Linked DNA regions of Homo sapiens. The protein of the gene in region 2 interacts with the protein of the main gene of each other region in a biochemical or structural test. Each region holds a gene or a part of one and is shown on either strand. Other genes may lie near its edges.

Region 1 (3,500 bases), on a different chromosome or scaffold from region 2:
ATGTAATTTTTAAAGATATTTCTTCTTTCATTTAAAAAAAAGCACTTTCAGTGTTAACTGTCACCCTTCTTTAGAAAAAATTTCTGTGTTTACTATATTTTGTTTACGTTTAAACAGCTATAATCTGGTTATTTACTTCACACTTAATAATTTCATGTACAATTAACATCTGGTGAAATTTCAAAGGGATGACACTTTAATTTAGCTCATTTATTCATAAACTTTTCAGTTTTTAAGTATTAGATGCAACTGCTTTTCGAGTATGCGGGAGATAGTCTCCAAAGACAGCCACCCATCAATTCCTTCCTCCCGTCATGTATGCCTCCCCTTGAATTTCTGCCCCCTACCCGCCGAATGTGGTTTGCCCTGTGAGTTGTCTTGACCAATAGAATGGAGAAGAAGTGACATTCTGAGGCTTTTGAGCCAGGCTTTAAGTGGATTGGCAGTGTCTACTTTTACTCTCTTAGAAGCCATCTGCCATGTTGTACAGAAGTTTGGGCTAGACTACTGAGTGGTGAGATCCTATGCAGGGAGAGCCCTGCGGGATGAAAGGCCATCTTGGAAGCTCCAGCCTCTGCTGAGTTCCCAGGTGCAGGTAACTGCAAAACCAGAACCACCCAGCTGAGCCCAGTCAACTCCCAGACGTGTGAGAAATAATAAATTGTCACGTTAAACCCTCAGTGGGTTTGGGGGTGGCTTAGTGGGCAGCAATAGAGAAATGAAATGCACACCAGTACCTGGAAGTGGGGTGCTGGTGGACATGTGGCTTTGGTTGGAGGCGTGAAGGGTGGCCTGGTTATTGCTGAGGGAGGCTGTGAATGGAAGATAGATAGGCAAGTGCTACTGAAGGCGAGAGAAAGGGGACTAATGCTGTGTAGCAGAAAGTTTGGCAACGCTGCCACAGGAGGTCTTACGGAAGGTAGAACGTAAACCTAAATAAATTTGTAAATTTGGCTAAGGAAATTTCCAGAACAAATTCTGCCTTGTCAACTGGACTGGTGTGTTTATCTGCCCATGATAAGGTACAGGAAGAGAGAAAGGAACTGTCCAGTTCTCTTTAAGGAAATGTATTCACCTAACATTTGCTAGCTTAGAAAACAAAATTATTCACCATTCCCAGCCTCTCCATCAGCAAAAGTTTCTTCAAGTAAGGCACAGCCTCAGGCCAAAGGTCAAATCCAGCGTGCTGACAGGAAAACATGGCCTCAGAATAAAAATCAACTAGAGGTACAGATATATTACCTCAAAATCTTTAAAAAACCTCTAAGGTGGTACCTTGTGAATTCCCTTGGCTAGATGAAAGAGCTTCAAAGGATCTTATGGGCATTGTCCCACTGCACCTTTACTTGGATTCCATGTTAGAGAGGGACCTGTCTTGAAAAGATTTGTGGGTGGAGCTTTTGGCTGATGGAGTGGTGTGTAATTTGATGGGAAATCCAAAAGTTTACAAAGGAAGAGTTGTACTAGTTTGGACTAAAAGGGACAGGTAGATCAAAATGATAAAAGGCTCAGGGTCCCGAAAATTTCTAGGAGCAGGGAACAGGTTGAGAAAGCCACTTGGCTGTAAATATGATCCATTTCTTATGAAAAGAGAAGGATAATTCAGAGGGCATGGCCAAGAGCTACAGAGGCTATGTACAGTGGTTCACACCTGTAATCCCAGCACTTTGGGAGGCTGAGGAAGGAGGCTGAGGGAGGAGCCCAGAAGTTCAAGACTAACCTGGGCAACATAGCAAGACCCTGTCTCTACAAAAAGTAAAAACAAAAAAAATAGCCAGGCATAGTGGCATGTGCCTGTAGTCCCAGCTACTCAGGAGATTGAGATACGAGGATGGCTTGAATCTAAGAGGTTGGGGTTGTGGTGAGCCATGATCACGCCACTGCACTCTGGCTTGGGTGACATAGCCAGACTGTGTCTTAAGGGGGAAAAAAAAAAAAAAGAAAAGAAAAAAAAGGAAAAAAAAAGACAGCCACAGTGAACCACTCCCTGGGAGCAGAACTGGGCCCTAATCAGGGATCATTCCCTAACTCCAGAGTAGATGGCCCTGATAACATGTGTCTGGCTGAATTTTAGAATTGCTAAGGACCCAGTGATGACTATCTGCCCCCTGTTGGTGGGGGGAGCACGTGGCAGGTGAGTGTAATTTGAATGTGGGAAAAATAGATTTAATTTGTATTCACAGGGAAGACTGTGGCTGATTAAAGATGGCCACGAAATTTTTGCTTCTCCTTTCAAAGAAGGTGGAATCTGTTTTCCTATCCCTTGAACCTGAGCTGACTTCATGACTTGCTTTGCACAACAGAATGTGGCAGAAGTGACAGCATGTCAGTTCCAGGCTTAGCCTTAAAGAACAATGACAGCCTCTGCTTTCTCCCTCTTGAGATACAATTATTCTGTGAAGAAATTCTAACAAGACCACTTAATGATGAGATGCCACATGGGACTAGAGAGGCCCCTGCCTTCTAGTTGTATCTGTCAAGGCCCCAGGCATATGAATGAAGCCGTCTTTATGTTTCTGCCCCAGCCACCAGCTATATGCAGTTGCACAAGTGACCCCAGGTAAGACCAGAAGAATCTCCTAGCCAACATACAGAATCATAAGAAATAATAAGTCATTATTATTTTAAGCCACTGGGTGTTTTGAAACAGTTTGTTACGCAGCAATCAATAAATGAAACAGAACATAACTTGAAAAAACATTTCTGGCTTAAAAATTAGAAATTACTGTGACTATACAGTAACTCCCTGGTTTTCAGAAAGTTCACGGAAGATGATGCAGTGCTTAACTTTGCAGTTAAATAATACTGCCCAGAGTTAATTTTTCTTTGACTATCTCACAGACTTAGGTAAATTATCATGAACATTAGTTGCTCTACAATAACATGCCAAATATAGAAGGTACAAGATATTTTACTAAATATAATTCTTTGAGGGTACACTCTAAAAACATGTTTTCTTAAGATCCATGTTTTCCCAGCAGGCTAAGAATGGCAAAAAATTAAATTAACTTACTGTTTAGTTTGTCTTAAGAGTTTTAAATTATATTTTCATAGAAAAAGTGTGAACTTCAAAAATTTTCAGAAGATCTCTGTTCTAAGTGAAATAAACACGACTAAAAGTAAGCTGGTGAACCCGAGAATCTGATGTCATCTGTGAAAGTAGAAGGAACAATAATCAGTATCTGAAATGAGGACTTACTGTTGCCAGATCCAGAGGCGTCTGGCCTTCCTGGTTCTTCATGGTGGGGTCTGCACCATGCGCTAGGAGGAGGGCGCACAGCTGCGTCCTTCCTTTCTGGGCTGCTTCATGGAGGGGAGTAAACGCCCACTTATCTGTTGCATTTACACACGTGTTGTATTTTATCAATAAAGCCGCTATGTCAACATGCTGAAAAAAAAGAAAAGGATACAAAGAGTTAAGAATGAGATCATCTGGTAAAGCACCATTGTGTATACCTGTTTTTATTTAACAATTCACTCCTCTGTATCTCCATTTTCAT
Region 2 (4,390 bases):
TCTTCTGGTGACAACAAGGTTGGCTTGTCAAGGAAATCCTCGGGAATTTCTTGTCGACAAAGAGCACACCGCTTTCCAAGCCATGAAGCTCCTTTTACACATAGATAGCAGAAAACGTGCTTACAGGGCAGACTGACTGGATGAACACATGTTTGCAGACAAATGGCACATTCAGGGACGGTTAAAGAAGGTGCAGTATTAGAACAGGACTCGTTCGCTTTCCTGTTTGTAGGAAGCATGTTTATTGAATGATCAATTTCACCACAGCCAGCCATCCTAAGAAAAAATACATATAATATTAAAGTCATGTTTTAATTCTTGCAATATCTTAATTTAACAATTATGAAAACACTAACCACCTATGATGTGCATTATATGCAAGCCACATACTAGACAATGGGGATATGAAGATGAAAGTAGAGGAAAAACTCTCCAACCGATGAAAATTTTTTGTAAGCATCTACTTGTACATACCTTGGGAATGTATAAAAATTCCATCAGTGCACTTAACAGATCAGCCCTGGAGAAACACACTGAAGAACTATATAATGAAAAGCTGCATCCAGTGAGGGGAAAAGGATACCTTGAATCATGGCAGCTATTATACAGTGAAATGAATGCTAGACAAGAAATCTAAAAATCTGAGTTTTAGAGTCCTTTATTAATTATGTGCTCTTAGGCACTCAGTTAAACCATTAGTCTAAATTTCCTTACCTGCAAATCAGAGTTTACAAAGCTCAGGTAAAAATGGACAAAAAAAGTGCTTTGTAATCACTAAAGCTTCATAAAGGTAACAATCATATAAGACCAAAGGAGAAAATAACATGAATATTGAAGATCCCCTGAAGAGGAAGAAGAAAAAAGATTTGTCAAATTGGATGTATCTAGCTTAAACACTGACATAAAATTTATAATTTCTGCCTTATTGATTCAGATAAACATTTACTAAACACCTGCCATGTTCCAGATACAATACTAAGTACTGATGGGTCTAAAGATAAATAAGACACACAACTACTCTGTTAAATAAGGAAACATACATGCAGATAATTACAATATGGCCTGATTCCTGCGTAATCAAAATGTGTTAACATACTTACTAAAATAACAGTAAGAGAGAGATGAGAGGATGGACATAGGTTAGAAAGTTTAGTGTTCATTCAGAGGGGCTGGGCAGTGGAGCAGATTCCAGGCAGAAGCACATGCAAGACACTGAGTCAAATAGTCATACAAGCAATGGAAGAGCAGGAGATGAAGGTGTAAAGGTAATCAAAAGTTAAGTCATGAAAGCCTTATTGTGTTATTGTGCCCTGCCAAGGAAACATCTAATTTTTTTCCCCATGGTAAAAAAAAAAAAAAAAAGACATTTTAAAAGGGGAGAAAATAATGGAGTAAACCACTGATAAGTAAAAAAGACTGAGAAATAAAGATGAAGATGTCAGAGATTGAAAGCTTAAAATGAATGACAATCTCTCTGCCAGCTAATTCTGCCATTCTAAATGGGTCAGTAGTTACAAAAGATATAGTCAACAAGAATGCTTACGCTCATCAAAAATTGAAAAACAATAATCCTAGGCTATCATCACAGCACATTCAATCTTCAAACAATCCTTTTTTTTCTTTTTACTGCCTTTTCTGTGTTCTTGGTTCCTCAATAGACAAGGCTCAAAAAGATGGCAATTTTCTAGTAAAGGAAGCAACACAGTAAGTTTTTAAAAAGATGGCACATATCTAGTAAAGGAACCAACACAGTCTCAATGGAAGAACTGATCACTAAAATGTTTAATTTCCAAATTATTTTCAACTTTTAATAACATTTCCAATCAATTCCTTTACCAGAAATTCTAGGTTATAGACATCAAGAAAGTACAACTTTCTCCTAACCTATGGAAAGTTCTAAGTCAGGGGTGTCTAATCTTTTGGTTTCCCTGGGCCACACTGGAAGAAAAAGAATTGTCTTGGGCCACACATAAAATGCATTAACACTAATGATAGCTGATAAGCTAAAAAAAAAAATCACATAATGTTTTAAGAAAGCTTATGAATTTGTGTTAGGCCGCTTTCAAAGCCATCCTGGGCCACATGTGGCCCACAAGTTGGATAAGCTTGTTCTAAGTAAACCCTAATAGGACGTCTTAGTATGTTAAGCACTATAAAAGCTTTCAAATATTTTGAGATAAACACTTGCCTTCAAAGATCTTGTAACTTGAAACAACAATAAGTTACAAAAGAAGGCATATGTTTTTAAAATAGCCAATTACACATTCCCTGCCTATTTCCTCCCCTAAAAGAATTGGCTGTGCACACATTTTGTTAGGTTTTCAGAAACTTTCATCCCTTTCGATTTAGGTCAAAAAAGTTAGTTTCCATAAAATTCCTGAAAATCTTTTTGTTCCAAGTTCCATATTTATTTAAAGCTCCAATTAAGAAAAAGAAAACAAGAAAGTGATCCATTTACAAGTAATAATTTAAGAAAGATTCTACTCATGATTCTATTCATGAGACTAAATAGAAAAATGGGCTGATGACCACCATTACTTTGGAAAAACAACAGCAACATCTTCATATAAGAAGTCTACATCTTAAACCATCTAAGTACCTTATGAACAAAGGACAGGATCATAAACTGAAAACATAAATAAAAACAGAGTCTGGTAAAATGAAAACAAGACACCCAACATGTCACGTGGACCAATGCCATGCTTTTAAATACATAATTCCAAACCTATTGTATTTGCTTTAAGTAAAATGGGCCCAAGAAGTCAGTTTTCCATCACATACAGCTCGTTTATCTACAGAAAAAAAAGTTTCCAACCTAAAAACATTATCCTCCACCCTACTTAATATGATTAATATTTTGCATGACTCTTACTCTTGCATTTATGAATAAACCAAAACACATAATTTCAAAACTAAGAAAGCAATTACAATCATCCCAGGAGAAGGCATGAATTATAATAACATAATTGGAAAGGCAAAACAATCCTGTTTGTGCAGGTATTTTGGTTCCATCATCAGAATGAAGTGAAGTTGGACAAAGTTAATCTGCAAACAATGGACACCAGACAGCTAAATGGTCATTATTTCATCTGAAGCACTCTTAACTATCAATTTGCCATAGCAATTTATAAATTCTGATTCTGTTTAGCCCATCAAGTATACTGTTAGTCTATCACCAACTAACAAATGGGCAGAAAAACTTAGTGATATTTCTTATTTAATTCTGAATGAGGCACATGCAATAAGTAAGATAGAGATAAAATGTGTAACAAGATAGACACAAAGTAACCCCAAACTGCTAGTCTACCTATAAGACATACTTCAAGGCTTTTTAAAAAACCATTTTAATCTACCCTACACAGTCTCTGTTTTGCAGTTCCAATGATCTTAAAATAGGTGGGAGACTAAATGTATGCAGATGATCATACCAATATGTAAATAAGAAAGCTTTTCCCCTCCCTTTGTGTAGAGCAAGTATTAATGCTAATCAAAAGAGGTATTCCCTATCTCATAAATGTCTCAGAAAATTCTAATTTTGAAAAAGGGAATTTATTTCCAGTTTACTAAACTAAGAATTTAATACACAGAAATTTGGAGTGACGTTAGTCCAATTCTATTAATAAGTATAATACATCATTTACTTTCAAAGACGTTTTTACTGAATTCTTCATGTGATATTCCAACTTTTAAGTATAAATCCCCTTCTTCCAATAGATAAACCATGTGAAATATTTCTGCCAGACTAATAAGAGTCTATTAATACTAAGTCTTCTTCTCAAGAAGACAAAATATAGAGGGGTATGGGCAGAGTTAGTGGAAATCTCCAAGAACTCAGATTTCCTTGAAACTTCTTGGACAACTAGTCAAATGAAAGGCAAAATTATTATAAGCAAAAAAGATCTTTAGTATGTGTAGTATTCAAGAAATTTTTAGCTTGCAATAAAAACTCCAAATATTAAAAATCAGATTTTTAAAGTCTGAATTTAGAATCCAATTACAGACACACAAAAAGGGAACAATCCTACATATAATTTCAAGGGGCTTAAGGATTTCTATGAAGCTGGTCCACATATGAACCACTAATGAGACAAGAGGAGTTCACTGAAAGGTTTTACGTCAGGAAATAACAGCCAGTTTAGTAGCTTCCAGACCATTTGAACAGCAGGTTGGAGGAAAGTTTGGTAATGCAGGAGGAGGTATGGCGAAAGGGAAACTAGAATATCCAGGTAGTAATGCAAGTATAAGATAATTAGAGGGAGGTTGCTGATGTAAGTTTCCAACAATAGAATAGAAGAATGCTAAGGAAAAAGAAATGAAAGCATTTGATTACTGATGGATGGTGACACATTCACCAAAATTCAGAATTTGAGGAGAGTTCTGTCTCAGACAT
Region 3 (3,500 bases), on a different chromosome or scaffold from region 2:
GTGAAGGAGAACATTTATTTAGCCTTGCACTGTAAAATAAATTGCATATTGTGTTCTCCAATTCCATGTTCATTAAGCCAAAGGGCAAAACATATCAGGAAAATGAATTACTTTTAATATCAAAAATATAATTGTGATCCTTAAATCATTTTTTTCTGTAGTTGAGCACACATTCTTGCCCATGATTTGCAGATAATAATGAGATGAAGAAGCCATTTAAGGAAGCATATCATCCTACCAGCTTCTATTTCTTCAGGTCCATCGTAGGATTTGTCAATGGCTGCTCTAAAGCTCTCATTGCAGCCTCGGCCTCGAACCATGTGCGGCCGGGGCCTGTGAAAGGGAAGGTCATTCTTCCTGACCTCGGCCACTGCAGTCTGCAGACTCTCCAAGGAGCTGGACTTTTTCAAACCCAGAGTTGGACCAAAATCTTTGCTTGGAGATTCTGGAAAAGAAAGGGCAAAAGGTCACCCCTCTTCTAATGGGGCAGTGTGGTGTAATGCTATTGTTCTAAGAATATTTCTGTCTGGACATCCCAAAAAAGGGGTGTTAAGTGGGTGGGAGTTGGGGTTATACTCCAGCTTTGCCACCTTTTGTAACCTTGAACAAGTGGTTTGACTTCTCTGAGCCTCTGTTTCCTTTTCTAAAGCTGTGATAAAATTTAATATGACTATAGGTACATTTCTCTCTATGCAGAAGTGTATATGCATGTGTGTCTATAGGCATATACACACACACCTATGAATTTGAAAGGCTGTAGCTATTTATAGAGACTATGTATGTGAATGAGAGTGATTTCACATATGTGAGAATACCCACATACACACATGCATACTCACAGACACACACACAAACATACCAAGCACCTAACATGACGAGAGCTTCTCTTCCAGTATCGTCCTAGCACTCCCACACCTGACAGCTTTTATCATTGCCATGGTTGCTCATATGATTAGTAAGGAACATACTGGGCATGGAAATAAAAGAACATTGAAGTGACTGTGATTTTTCTAATTAAACACTTTACCTTACCCTATTGGCTATTAATGTATGGTAACTGCCATTTATTTAATCAATCAATCAAGCAAGCAAAGCAAGAAAGAAAACAACTTTTCTGTGTCGATGCTATAGTTCTGAATGTATTCCTATTTGGTATCTAGAAAAGAGGCAACCTTTTAATGCAATATAAAATTATAAAACAGAAAATATAGAGCACAACTGAATTTGAATCATTGCTTTTCTGGTATATAATGTTTTTCATTTGTGCGGTTTGCCTTGCCCTCTACCTGCCCCCTCCCACTCCATTCCTTGACCTCCATTCCCACCCCCAGCTAGTCTCTCAATTATCAATAACAGGATTAGGTTATATAAATATTAGCAGCATTATATATATATATTATATATATATATATAATATATAATATTAGCAGGATTATCTTTAAGACAGAAGGAATTCTATCAGGGCTCTTGTCTCTACAGTCAAAGCTTTTCCACCAGGGCCACAGCTCATGTTCCTTTCCAGTTACGAAGGAGACTACTGTCATGAAGTCTACTTGCATTTCTGGGAAAAAACGACTGTGTCATTTATCAATAGACAAGAGTACCTATTAAGAATTATGTATGTAAAGTACCTACTTCAATGTCTAGCACCTAGCAAGGCTCAATAAACGGCACTATCTTTTATTACTATCATCACTATTTTTGCTTCTATTATCACTGCCACTATGAACACTACTACTAGCAGCTGCACACAGCATTAAGGAATACAAAAGAAGTACAAAAAAGCACTGATGTATATATATACCTATGTGAAGTGAAATAGCAATACACACCTTTACCTATGATCCGAACGTGTTAAAAATAGTCAACATAATGAATAATCGTAATAGCTAATAATGCATGGAGTGCTTAGTCTGTGTTAAGCACTATTCTAAATGCCTCACCCACAGTAACTTACTATAATCCTTATAGTTGTGCTACTGGTACTACTTTTAGCCCCATTTTACAGATTCAGAAATTGAGGCACACAGCATTGACATAACTTGTCTAAAGTTAAACACTTAATAAGCATCCAGACCAGGAGCTGGGCCGAGGCAGCCTAGTTCCAGCTTTTCTGCTGTGTACCATGTACTTTACTGTCTAAAGATGTATTTGCTCTGCACCCTCTATTTGATTATGGTCAAACAACTTAAACTGCCCTACATTGTCCTCATTTCTAAAATAAGAATATTAGGCTAGATTAACCCTGGAGCCTCGTCAAGTAGGCAAACTGCAAAAATTGGATGTTGCGTTATAGTTTCATCATTAACTTATAGGAGACAACTTTGCACTTTGAACAATATACAGGATGACAATAAACACTAGATTTTATAAACCCTACTGGCTATTAATGTAGGGTAAGTGCAATTCAGTATTCAGTAAATTCAACAGAGTATATTCAATAAATGCAACAGAGATAAGACTAAGCAAAAAAAAAAATACAAAAAATTTCAGGGACAAATTTCAGGTGTTACTTGCAAGTCATAAATACTGAGGATATGTCACTATTAAATCCAGAAAGAGGCATATTTTTTATATTCCCAGGAAGGAAGATAAGTTGAAGAAACAGAAATTGAATAAGATGATTTCTGACAAGAAAACAAAAGGCATCACAGAGGTTTGGGTGTATAGAAGCAATAGTAAAAGCTTTGGAGTTTACAGAAAATATTTTATAATATCAGCCCCTAGGGATGTCTGACATGAAGTTTAGTGAAAACATGAAGATGAAAACTATCTGAGAAAGCCCTGATTCTCTGTCAGCAATAGTAACCATCTTTTATTTATTAATTGCCATTCAGGAGATTACATTAGAGCCCAAACTGTAAGCATTCACGTCAACGTTTAGCAATAAATTCCAGGGAACATGAAAGTGAATAAATCGTCCAAGATAGAAGGCACGTTATCTAAAAGGAGCTCATGTGAAGCTCAGCAAGAAGTCATAGCTAAGAAGAAACAAATACACTGTTCCTCATTCTAAGCAAACTGAACATTAAGGATTCATGGATTTTGCAAGATTAATAGAGTTGGCAATTAATTCACTCTATATAAATAGAAGTCACAAAGTAGAAGTACTAACTGATGTTGGGCAATATTACAACCTAACTCTATTGGATGTAATACATGGTAATATTAAAAGCAAAAAGGGTGGTTGAGTCCTTAGGTTGTAAATGTGGACTCTGGAGTTTTCAGGATTGGAAAAAAAATTCTATTTATTCCTGGAGAATGCACAGAATGTAGCTGTAGAGTAGGGACTCATGTTAGAGAAGAGAACCAAAATCAGGAAAGTCCTTATAAGGATTTACAGGTACAGTGAACTGACTGAACTGGGGGCTCTGACAAGCACCTTCTCCAGGGATCCCCATGTCTTTCATATGTTTGAGGGCTCCTACAGAAGGTCAAGGTTACCTGCTGTGTAAGGGATTATAATGTCAATTGAAAGGCATCAGTGTTAAATTCCAACA
Region 4 (3,500 bases), on a different chromosome or scaffold from region 2:
CCTTTACTTAGGATGTTTTCATTTTAAGGGAGACTCTAATTGCCAAAATAGAGAAATCAATCTGAAAAACACTAACAAAAAATCTTTTTCTTTTTTTTTCTATCATAGACAAGCTGGGTACAGCGTCATGTGTCTGTAGTCCCAGTTACTGGGAGGCTGAGACAGGAGGATGGCTTGTGCCCAGGAGCTTGAGGCTGCAGTGAGCTATGATCATGCCAACTTGGGTGACAGAGCAAGACCCCATCTTTAAAAAAAAAGAAAATATATACACATCTATACACACACATGCATATATAAATGTATCATAGACACTGAGAAACTACAGTTAGAATGCTACTGCCAGATTGCAGGATGTGTCCAGAGAGGGAGAAAAAAAAAATGTACTTATGTTTCCATAGCTCTATGGATTTGGGAACAAGCAGTGAGTAAAATCTTAAAAACAAAACAAACAAAAAAAGCACACCTAAATGATAAGGAAAAAAAAACTCTTCATAATAAATAAATATCTTTCATCTTTAGGTGAAACTGGATCTAAATGCACGGAAGGCAAGGTTTCCTGTTTTAAATCCATAATAAAATAATAAATATACATAATATAAATAATTAATTTTAAAAATCCTGTTTTATTATTTCTTAATAAAGCCAATTCTATAAAGCAATGTTTACCATGCCAGAACTTCTCATCTTATCTAGTTTCCTAGCTCACTGATAAGAAAGGCTTCTGGGATGGAACAAGGTCCCATGCACTGGCCTGGATTTAAAGGGACAGTGTTGGTTATTTTCCTAATGCTGCATCTTCTGAAACAAACAGCTTTCTTGTATACCCCAGCAAATCGCAGTGGAAGAATCTCCCTTTTCACGAAAAGCAGAGCAGAGCTGCTACACTATGCCGTGTGAAACCTGCATATAGGGGCCACCTGCACCCACTGAGGAGGACACATGGCTGTTGAATATAGCTTTGCATTCAACAGAGACCTCCATACACACATTGAATAGTAGCCTTTTATCGACAGGTATTCTTTCAACACAGGTGGGCTCAAAAACAGATTTTACTATACTGTGTATTTCTCATCTAAAATCTTTGCTATTATGCCTGGCACACCAGAAAATGCTCTGAAAAAAAGAGGTCAATGTGCCAACCTCCAAACTAGACTGGTATATCAGATAAGGAAAATTAAAGGAAGCACTAGGGACCAAGTTTCTCCAGGACGCTGCTGCTCTCTGCCTGCCCCATCATTAGAGGTGCAGACAAGCTCTGAGGTCTGCAACGTGCTGCCCAGCCACTGCACGAGTAGACCACTTCTCACCCACTATGCGCAAAGCGCCTTGAAGCACTATATAAATGCTAGTTGTTGTTATAAATGTATCCCACGAGTCAGGTGGCTCAGAAAATAGCAAATTCTTATTGTTTTATTTTAAAGAATCAATAATTTTCATACTTGGTCAAAAGTCAAAATGCTTCATAGCTTAGTTTTAGGATTCTTAGGTACGGTAAGAATCTAAACGGATTAGACAACAAATGATGATAGGAACACATTCTTCCTATCTCAAATGTCAAACAACAACCGCGGAAAGGAATGTACCCTGGGATGCCACTGGAGGTTCCATGTGCTTCTGTGACCCCGACACTGACCAACCACAGCATATCTTGGCTGGTCACATTTATAAAAAATAAAAGTGAAGCAGCCATTCTTGAACACTAATGGTTTGGCTTAATAGACTCTTGTATCCAATAAAAATTGAGTTTTAAATGCCACCCTTTTTAGCGAGAGTTAAAATAAATTTAAAAAGGTGTTAAGAAAGGCTTCTGGGATGGGGGGAAGCCCCAAGATTGGCCTGGGTTTTCTGATGAAAAATGCATGAAGTCTCAGCACATAGCGGAATGAGTGCTGGTAAACGACAACTTTTCTAAGCAAGAGGCTGGGTTATCCAATCTCATGGCTAGCCCACTGAGGAGCCTTGACAGGAATGGACACAACTGCTTTCTTTGTGTACCTTTTAAAGTGTAATATCCTAAGAAAAATTATCCTTTTCTTTTGTAATTTGATTTGATGTTGCTATTTTACTGAATTAAAGCTTTTTTTTTTATCCCAACGAGTAAATTTATCATGCTACACACTGATAAGGGCTGCAAGCATGATTATGATTTCCATAAAGCAACAAGAAAGCGCTCAGTACCTGGGAAGCCCAAGCCACATGACCCATGATGGGGACCAACTGGCATCATACTCATTTTCGCTGAAAGTACTCGGCTGCTCCTCCGCGTTCTGAGTCGCCTCCTCAACAATCTGGACCTCAAGTGCTTTAAGGGCAACAGCAGGGGACGCGGCACTGGCTTTCAGCATTGCAACTGCCTCACTGTGACTTAAATTGGTCAAATCAATGCCGTTGATATTTAGCAACACATCACCTGTTCAGATGAAGAAACAAGAAAAATGAGCTGAGCCACTGAGTTTTCACCTGCAAATCTTGTTGTTTATAAACTAAGCAACAAAAGTTAGTTCCCCCAACTCTGATGAGATAAGGTATAATAATAAATGGCATTTATTATTTCTTTGTAATTTTTATAATATTGAGAAGAAACCCAATACACAGAAAACATTCCATAATTTTAAAATAATGTCATAATACATAGAAAAAAGTGTGGCCTGAGGCACCTTGACATGATTGGAAGTTCGAATCATCAGTCTGAGTTTAGCTGTGTACAGGCCCTGGGCAGGTTCATTTCTCTTCTTAAGAGTTTCAGAGATTTCTACAATTCTGTCCAATCAAAAATCACTTGATCCTTTGCCCTTAGAAATAAATCTTTAATGTATTCTGCTTTATATTTACACAGTTCTATACATAAGGACAGCCCTGTATAGTTTATTCAGGGCAAACATCAGAATATGTACAAAGAAGCTATCCCTGGGCCCACATGAAGAAATGAAACTTGCGGTTTGAATGTCTTCCCTGTTTCAGGAAGAAAAGAACTGTTGCTCTGCTAAGTAATATAATAAAAAATGGCAATGAGGATTATATCAAAGGTTAGGAAAGGATTAGTTTTGTAGGAAGCAGACATTTGTGCTACAAAGTCTACAGAAATTTATCTCTCCCAATTTATCATCAGTTTTTCAGATTATTAAAGCAAATCATTCTCATTGTAGAAAATTTAGAAAACACAATAAAAGAACAAAAAGGAAATAAAATTACCCCAATACTACAACTGGACAAATAACCTTTACTTAATAGCAGCTTGAGAAATAATTCACATACTATTCAATTCACCCATTTAAAGAACATAATTTTATGGTTTTAATATATTCACAGTTGTGCAATCATCACTACAGTAATTTTGAGAACATTTTAATCACTCCCTCTATACCCATCATTTCCCTTCCCCAACCCTAAGCAACTACTAATCTACTTTCTGTCTCTACAGATTTGCCTCTTCTGAACATTTCATGTAAATGGAATCATACATGGTCTTTTATATCTAGCTTCTTTTACTTGCATAATAT

Evidence for each region. Proteins that work in one complex are often made in the same cells at the same time.
Region 1: the proteins of RNF146 (region 2) and TNKS form a complex in vitro, tested with the Homo sapiens proteins (3 studies listed by BioGRID and IntAct, with this or other methods).
Region 3: the proteins of RNF146 (region 2) and PARD3B interact in a test that uses a peptide from one of them, tested with the Homo sapiens proteins (one large-scale study listed by IntAct).
Region 4: the proteins of RNF146 (region 2) and LNX2 interact in a test that uses a peptide from one of them, tested with the Homo sapiens proteins (one large-scale study listed by IntAct).

Annotation. Positions count from the first base shown.
Region 1 is NC_000008.11:9,747,912-9,751,411, reverse strand, and holds part of TNKS (poly [ADP-ribose] polymerase tankyrase-1), read right to left. Parts: intron 3,389-3,500; coding exon 3,200-3,388; intron 1-3,199.
Region 2 is NC_000006.12:127,282,502-127,286,891, reverse strand, and holds part of RNF146 (E3 ubiquitin-protein ligase RNF146), read right to left. Parts: exon of another isoform or gene 1,544-4,390; intron 843-1,543; exon of another isoform or gene 715-842; intron 277-714; coding exon 1-276. UniProt on the Homo sapiens protein: E3 ubiquitin-protein ligase that specifically binds poly-ADP-ribosylated (PARsylated) proteins and mediates their ubiquitination and subsequent degradation. May regulate many important biological processes, such as cell survival and DNA damage response.
Region 3 is NC_000002.12:205,297,475-205,300,974, reverse strand, and holds part of PARD3B (partitioning defective 3 homolog B), read right to left. Parts: intron 446-3,500; coding exon 239-445; intron 1-238. UniProt on the Homo sapiens protein: Putative adapter protein involved in asymmetrical cell division and cell polarization processes. May play a role in the formation of epithelial tight junctions.
Region 4 is NC_000013.11:27,551,030-27,554,529, forward strand, and holds part of LNX2 (ligand of Numb protein X 2), read right to left. Parts: intron 2,411-3,500; coding exon 2,179-2,410; intron 1-2,178.